Linked DNA regions of Homo sapiens. The protein of the gene in region 1 purifies or fractionates together with the protein of each later gene. This does not show direct contact. Each region holds a gene or a part of one and is shown on either strand. Other genes may lie near its edges.

Region 1 (3,909 bases):
AGGGCAAGGCAAAGAATGCCTTGACAGACCCACACTGATCCCCATGTGGCTTAACTGTTGGTAAACACAACCTTCAACACGCTTTAAAGGAAGAAAACAGGGCTCAAACACTAAACAACGTAACATTCGCAATGTCTGCCATCCTACGGAAAATAACTTGATATGAGAAGCAGCAACACCACGTGAATGTGTCCCGTCATCCTACGAAGAAGCCGTCAACAGAAACAGACCCGGAAGAGGCAAAAATGACGGAGTGAGCTGAAAGCAACTGGGAACAGTCATTGCAACTGTGACCAGACAGCGAAAGGAACGCACAGACGGAAGGAAAAGCGAGGACAGGGAAAGCACACGTGAGGCTTCTGGAAGGAGTGGACAAACACAATGTCAGAAATAAAACGAACTGACTGCATGGACCTAAGAGAAGATCAAAATCTGCAACAGAAAAGAGCCCAGCCACTTAAAAATACAGCAACAGAGGCGATCCAAACCGAAACACAGGGAAAATGAGCTGAAAACAATCAGAAGAGCTTTAGGGCCCTGTGGGGCAGAACCAGGCAATCTAACATCAGGTAACTGGAGCCTAAGAACAAAAGAGAAGGGAAGGAAAAGAAAAATAGTATTTAAAGAAATAATGGACAAGGACAAATTTTCCCCAAATTTGATTAAAACGATAAACCCACAGACTGCAAATGCTCAAACGGCCCCAAGCAAGATAAACATAAAGAACATCAAAGCAAAGTACAACATAATCAGGTTGCTGCAAACCAGCTATAAAGACAAAACCTAGCAGTGGAGGAAAGGGCACATTATATACAAGAAAATTAAGAGAGAACAATGGCGAGATTCTCGCCAGCAACAATGCAATACAGAAGACAATGGGGCGATATCATTAAAGTAGTGAGAGGAAAAAAAATTGACAAGCTAGAATTCTATTTACAACAAAAACAGCTTTCAAAAATGAGGACAAAGACCTTTTTCAGATAAACAAAAGCTGAGAAAATTCATGAGCAGCTGACTTGTGCTAAAATAAATGTTAAAGAACGTTCTTCAGGCAGAGAGAGAAGGGTGCCAGATAAAAAGCAGAATCCACACAAAAGGGCGGAGGGCACTGAAAGCCAGTGAACTGGTCCACACCAAGGGCGTTTCTCTCACGTCTTAATCTTTTAAAAAGAAAATTGTTTAAAGCAAAAATCATAACGCTGTACATTAGGCATAAAGCGCGGAGGAAGGAAACACACACGGCATCGCGGGGGCACAAGGCCGTGGGGGCCACACTCCACTGTGAAGCTCTCACACCAAACACGGCGGCATCGTTCCCGTCCGGCCTGCGGTGTCCCCGCCTGCTGTGAGGGCGGCGTCCTCCGTGCTCAGGGTGCACCCCCACTTTCTCTCCTCTGGAAGGTGCTTCCCAACAGGGGCTGCTTTCCTTCTCTTACCGACTTACTGAGTTCTTCATATATTTAAACACTCGTTTTTGTCAGTAAGGTGTGCTGCAGATATCTTTTCCCGAAGTGGCTGAATTTTGATTTTGTTTTGAGTGACTTCATTTTGAGTGACTTCATTTTGAGTGCCTTTTCATAAGCAAATGCTTAGTTCAAACATGGCCACATTTTTCAGCCTTCCATTCTGTAGGCTGCACTTCCTGCACATTTTAAAAGAAATCTCTCATCCCAAAACTATATTTTCTCCTATATTTTAGACTGAAATTTTTAATGTTGCCTTTTACATTTATATAATTAATACAACTGAAATTCATCTTATGTAGGGTGAGTGAGAAGTGGCTGCTTATGACACAAAGCAGGGATCCAATTTCATTTTTCCCAACAGGACACCAATGATGCCGTGCCCCAGCCCATGTCCCCACCCACCCTCCTCCAAGGCAGCCGCGAGGGTCTGGGTGGGGCCTCGACTCCGCTCTCCACTCTCTGGGCTGCGCACCTGCCTCGATCCGCTCTCCTCTCCGGGCCTGCGTCATGCCACCTGCCCCACTGCTTCTTCGGAATGAGCCTTGGGGTCGAGCTGGGTGAGAACCCACTTTGTTTTCCTTCAGGATTCTTTTAACTATTCTTGACCCTTTGCTCTTATATGGCAATTTTAGTATTAGTTTGTTGAGTGTTAGGAAAAATGCCGCTAAGATTTTGATTAAAACTGCCTTAAACTGGCCAGGCATGGTGGTTCATGCCTGTAATCCCAGCACTTTGGGAAGCCAAGGCAGGCAGATCACAAGGTCAGGAGATTGAGGCCATCCTGGCTAACATGGTGACACCCCATCTCTACTAAAAAAACACAAAAAAATTAGCTGGGTGTGGTGGTGGGCACCTGTAGTCCCAGCTACTCGGGAGGCTGAGGCAGAAGAATGGCATGAATCCAGGAGGCGGTGCTTGCAGTGAGCTCAGATCACGCCACTGCACTCCAGCCTGGGCAACAGAGCGAGACTCCGTCTCAAAACAAAAAAAAAAAAAGAAAAAAAAAATGCCTTAAATTACAGATTATTTTGGGAAGTTGTGGCAGTTTTTTTTAGCAGCTGAAACCACTTTGCTCTGCTCGAGGACCCTGCGCTGGGAGTTCAACACGGAGGGCTTATGTCACAGCAAGGATGCAGCGGCTGGGATCGCCTGAAGCCTCGCTCACACTCACACTGGCACCAGGCCGGGAGGGCTCGACGGCTCTGCCCACAGGTCCCGACTCCGGGTGGCTGCATCGACCCACAGAGCATGGCAGCAGCGTCAACCCACAGAGCGTGGCAGCAGCGTCGGCCCACAGTGTGTGGCAGCGGCGTCGGCCCACAGAGCGTGGCAGCGGCGTCGGCCCACAGAGTGTGGCAGCTTTGTGAAGCTCTGCGATGTTGGGGGCTGGTCCCAGAAGCCCTCATGCTGTGAAGAAGCCAGGGCTTGCCCAGGGTCTGGAGGTGGAGACGAGCCCCCAACATGGGAATGTGCCAAGGCCACACTGTAGGGGACACAGAGGGCGGGCTTCACGGCTGCGGCCTCGGGAAAATACAGCAGCCACTATTAGCAACAGCCTATAGGAGGCCCCATGTCTGAACACAAGCCTGCCTGCCCCTGCCTGCTCCTGTCCACTCCTGGATGCCCCAGGTCCGGGCGCCCCCTCTTCCCAGGCAGGACCCAGTTGGGCCGGCCCTGTCAGAAGCCTCAGGGCATGTACAGTGGGAATACACGTGGGGCACCTTCCTCCTAAACGATGGAGATTTCGCCCCCAAGGAGGATAGACGCTCCCTGCCGACCTCCTTGAGACAGACTGCGCAGTGGGATGTGAACCCCGGCCACCACAGGCCCAGGCCTCAGACACACACACACGGAGACGGCTCCACTGGTATCTGGGGCTCACGTCCCCTGGCCCGAGAGCACAGACCCTCGCCGTGTGGAGGCAGCAGGCTGTCACTCCGTGGCCTTCTGTCGCCGCCCCAAGGAGGCTCGTGGCCACACGTCTGGGCCACTCCTCTCTTTGGAAAACTGAGACTCAGCCAAGATGACCCCCAGGTGAGTCCCGAATGGTGAGGCTGGTGATCATAGTACCATGAAAAGACCCCCGCCGGCACCCCACACCCCTGGGAAGTGGACATGCACCAGCACCTGCCCCTAGACTTACTTGACGAACTTGTCCACGTGGGACATGGAGGCCTCGTAGTTCTTCCCTCCAAACTCCTGACAGTGCAAGGCCATGAAGTGCGGCTTGTGTGTGTGCACGACCTGGAGGGAGAGAAGCACACTGTCAGGGTCGTCGGAGCCGTCCACAGAGCCACACGTGGCACCACCCCCTCCACCGCCCCCACAGCCTGGGAGCCACCAGGGTCTGGCAGAGACGGGGCCCCATGTCTGCGACCATGGGTTCTGGACAGATTCTAGGAGTCACGTCGCCTTTGTGCTTCCAGTTATTTATATTTCCAGT
Region 2 (3,909 bases), on another chromosome or scaffold:
TGGTTCATTCTTCATTTTGCCACAGGATTACTAACCCTGAAAACTCAGTTCTCAAGCTGTCAGTGGCCTCCTGTGGCACGGGAACCGTAGGCTGACGGGCCTGGCTCAGGACAGCCTGGCAGGAGGCACCTGCCTGCCCCGCTTCAGCCCCATTGGACACACAGCTCGCCTGCCTATCTCTGTGCATTGGCTCACGCTGTTTGGGCTTGCACGGACAGCACCTCTGTCTCATATGGTTGCAGTCCTATGGCCTTTGGTGCCTGGTTCAAGTGTAAACTCTTAGACAAAGATAGACCAAATCTCTTCTTTCCTCCACCCCTTTCCTGTCTTCCTGCCCCAGCCAAAGGAATCTTCCCCTTCCTGACTCTCGTAGCATTTTATAACTCAGCTACATATGAATTTGGTTTTGTGTGTATGTCTTTTCTTCCTTGTCAAATTCTAAGCTTGTTTTGGTGTATAGACCATGTCATGTATCTTTGCATCTCTACCACACATAGCAAGGTGCCACACACATGTAATTAGTACATGTTGGTTGAATTAATCTATGTCAGGTGACCTTAGGTCTTCTCTAACGCAGAGACTATTTATTTGTGTGCCTTTTATTATGTGTCTACTACCTGCCAGGTATTATATATATGTAATCTCATTTAGAAAGCAGAATTTCGCATTTTCTTTTTTTTTTTCCCCCTTAAGTGATGGTCGGTGAAACTAATGTGAAATGTTATAAAGGCAGAGATACTGGAATTGAAGGAAAAAGAATAATTATCTATGTGTTAGTTTGGGTCATCCAAAAAACAGATGCCAAGATAGGATTAAAAGTACAAGAGATTTACTGGGGGAAACACCTGCAAGGGAAAATGGGGCTGGGAGCTGGAGGCTGTTGGCAGAGTTGGCAGACCCCTGTGGAGGAGGAAAGGCCGGGGGAGCGGGGAAGTTTTCCACTGGAGTGTGGTGCTGAGAAAGTTTCAGCAAAGCCATTGGGGAGCCAGTGCTGCCCCTCAGACGAGTCCCTCCCATGCTCAGGCATTGGCTGGAAGCAGCAGGTGGGAAGGGTGGCCTCTGCATGAATGTGCTGATGGATTTTAGAGTGCAGCCACTCTGTCCCCTGCATTTGGAGAAATACATCTTCATGACTGCCACACCATAGAATCAACCAAGCTAAAAGTTCAAAGGTGGCTTGTGGCACACAGGCCCTTTAGCCAGTTAGGCAAAACGAGGGCCTGGGAAAGAGAATTCTTCCTCTCGTCGGCAGTTTGAATATTTGCAGTCTTAGCTTGGAATGGTCTTTCTGCACTAGAGGGAAACCTCCTTTAGTGCAGACCAGCCTAAAGCCAAGCCATTGCTGCCTGAGGAAGCTGCCATCTCTGGAGCACGGTGACATGCCACCACCCTGGACCTATTCCCATCCCCCGGAGCACTGTGGCATGTAGCCTCTTCGTGCCACTGCAAGGTCAGAAAGCACCTCTGGGCACACCTCCGTCTTTTGGGTCTGCCTCCCCACTAGACTGAGCATTGTGCATAGAAGCTACTTTTATTCTTTACATCCCAGTGGCTTACATGATAGATGCCAAGTAAAATTTCCAGTTTGTACTTTAAATTGTTTTTCTGGCACTGGAGATGGGCTTGCAGTGATCCCTCCATCCATGTAATGGCCCTGGGCTCAGTGGACCATCCAGAGTAGGCTTCTCCACCATGGAGCTGCCCCTCCTCAGGAGTCTGATGTGAGTGGCTCTTGATACTCATTCTCACTTCACTCACTCCATATCACAAGAGCCAAGGATTTCCCAGTACCAACATTTTCTTGGGCTGCTTTTGATGGTTTTTTTTTTCCCCCTTCCTGTCCTCTTTTTCCAACCCCAGAACAAACTGCCAGCGTTCCTGGTTGGTGTTGCTAACTCAGGTCACCCTGAGGCTGCCCTGTCTTTCTCTTGCTTGTTGTGAGCCCCTCCCTCTACGCCCATGTGCCCGAGGCTGTGCCGCTGCCTTGTGCAGGCACCCAGGGTTTATGCCAGTGATTTCCTGACACAAGCAGCAGCACAGAACGTGTGTGTCCCAGGTTTAGGTTTGGGAGGCCTGCCTGGAGAACAGCCATCCCAGGTTCTGGGAGCTTTCTCAATTTACTGTTTTATCCAAAGATGGGTTGGCCTTTCTCTGGACATAGTGAGCTTCCTTGGGCTAGTTCTTAAGCCTGAGACTAAAAGTTCTCACCATGAGTTATTAGGGAGGCCTGTAAAATGTAAAGGCCATGCGTTTTTTTTGCTCTGTTACCCAGGCTGGAGTGCAATGGTATGATCATGGCTCACTGCAGCCCTGAACTCCTTGGGCTCAAGCAATCCTCCTAACTCAGCCTCTGCATAGCTGTGACAACAGGTGTGTGCCACCACACCTAGCTAATTTTTAAATTTTTGTAGATACAGGGTCTCCCTATGTTGCCCAGGCTGGTCTCAAACTCCTAGGCTCACATGATCCTCCTGCCTCAGCCTCCCAAAGTGCTGGGATTACAGGTGTGAGCCACTGCACCCAGCCAAGGCCATGCACCTTTAAGTTCTTTACCTGGGCTTTACTCTAAGATGGGAGGCCTCAGAGTGAGAAAAGCTGCTAAGAAGTGGGAAGGAGCCTGTACCTCTGGTGATTAGGGATTTCTCTTTTCGTCCACCCCCATTCTCACCTCCACTGGAAGTAGACCTGTAAGAAAAATTAAAGCAGTTTAGAAAGGGTTGAAACTGTTTATTCACCCATCCCTGCCAAAATTTTCTGGAACATTCCTAGTTTCAGATGTTCCTTATATCTTAAAACAGCATAAGAACTGTTTTTTGTTTTTAAAAAAAAAATTTGTAGAGATAGAGTCTCACTGCGTTGCTCGGGCTGGTCTTGAACTCCTGGGCTCAAACCCTCCTCTTGCCTCAGCTTCCCAAAGTGCTGGGAATACAGGCATGAGTCACCATGCTTGGCAAGAACCGCTGGCTATAGACCATGACTTTTTTTTTTTTTTTTTTTTGAGACGGAGTCTCACTCTGTCACCCAGGCTGGAGTGCAGTGGCGCAATCTCAGCTCACTGCAACCTCTGCCTCCCAGGTGCAAACGATTGTCCTGCCTCAGCCTCCCTAGTAGCTGGGACTGTAGGCGTATGCCACCACCCTCAGCTGATTTTTGTATTTTTTGTAGAGATAGGGTTTCATCATGTTGGCCAGGCTGGTCTCGAACTCCTGACCTCAGGTGATCCACCCATCTCGGCCTCCCAAAGTGCTGGGATTACAGGCGTGAGCCACCACGCCCATCCTATATACCTCACCCAAGTCGTGTAAATAAAGCCTGAAACTTGGGAAGAGGAGGCTGGACTATTGAGGTCTTATTGAGGTTGCTGTGCAAATCAAGATGATCCCATTTCTAAGAAATGGCTAGTCTGGTATAGAAGCTAAGGATTTGTTTAGGAAAGCAGGAAGCTCTTGAATATGAATCCAAGCTCAGTGGAAATGGGCTGAGTTGAATTACATTTAGCAGGTGGCTGCTGCCGTTCTAGAGAGAAGAGACTTGGAGGGACCTCTGCCCTCACTACCAGGCAGACCTGGCTTGGCAGGGTGCCTTGAGCCTCACTGGAACAGCAGTTGGTTTTCCCAGAACTCACCCCAGAAGCCTGTGTCCTCTGATAGCACTGGCCAGTTAGGACAGGAGGCTTTGATTCCCAGAGAGAGCCAGCAGGACTCCACTCTCATCTATGCAAGCACAGGCTGAGGGTGGATGGCATTAAAGTGACTGCACTGCTGAGTGGGGAATAGGGGCTGGGAACTCTCCTGGAAGCTTTCATCATATTAAAAGTAGGCATTTCTTTAACTGCAAAGAGATACTTTTATATTTTGTACTCAGTGGTAAGGCAAGATTAATTGGTACCTTCCTGCTTCTGTTCATTCC

What was found.
Region 2: the proteins of INPP5A (region 1) and TTC1 purify together in Homo sapiens (affinity purification with mass spectrometry; 2 studies listed by BioGRID and IntAct, with this or other methods). This does not show direct contact.

What each region holds. Positions count from the first base shown.
Region 1 is NC_000010.11:132,645,669-132,649,577, reverse strand, and holds part of INPP5A (inositol polyphosphate-5-phosphatase A), read right to left. Parts: intron 3,711-3,909; coding exon 3,610-3,710; intron 1-3,609. UniProt on the Homo sapiens protein: Phosphatase that specifically hydrolyzes the 5-phosphate of inositol 1,4,5-trisphosphate to inositol 1,4-bisphosphate, and inositol 1,3,4,5-tetrasphosphate to inositol 1,3,4-trisphosphate. Plays a crucial role in the survival of cerebellar Purkinje cells.
Region 2 is NC_000005.10:160,060,989-160,064,897, forward strand, and holds part of TTC1 (tetratricopeptide repeat protein 1), read left to right. Parts: intron 1-2,553; exon of another isoform or gene 2,554-2,668; coding exon of another isoform or gene 2,669-2,685; intron 2,686-3,909.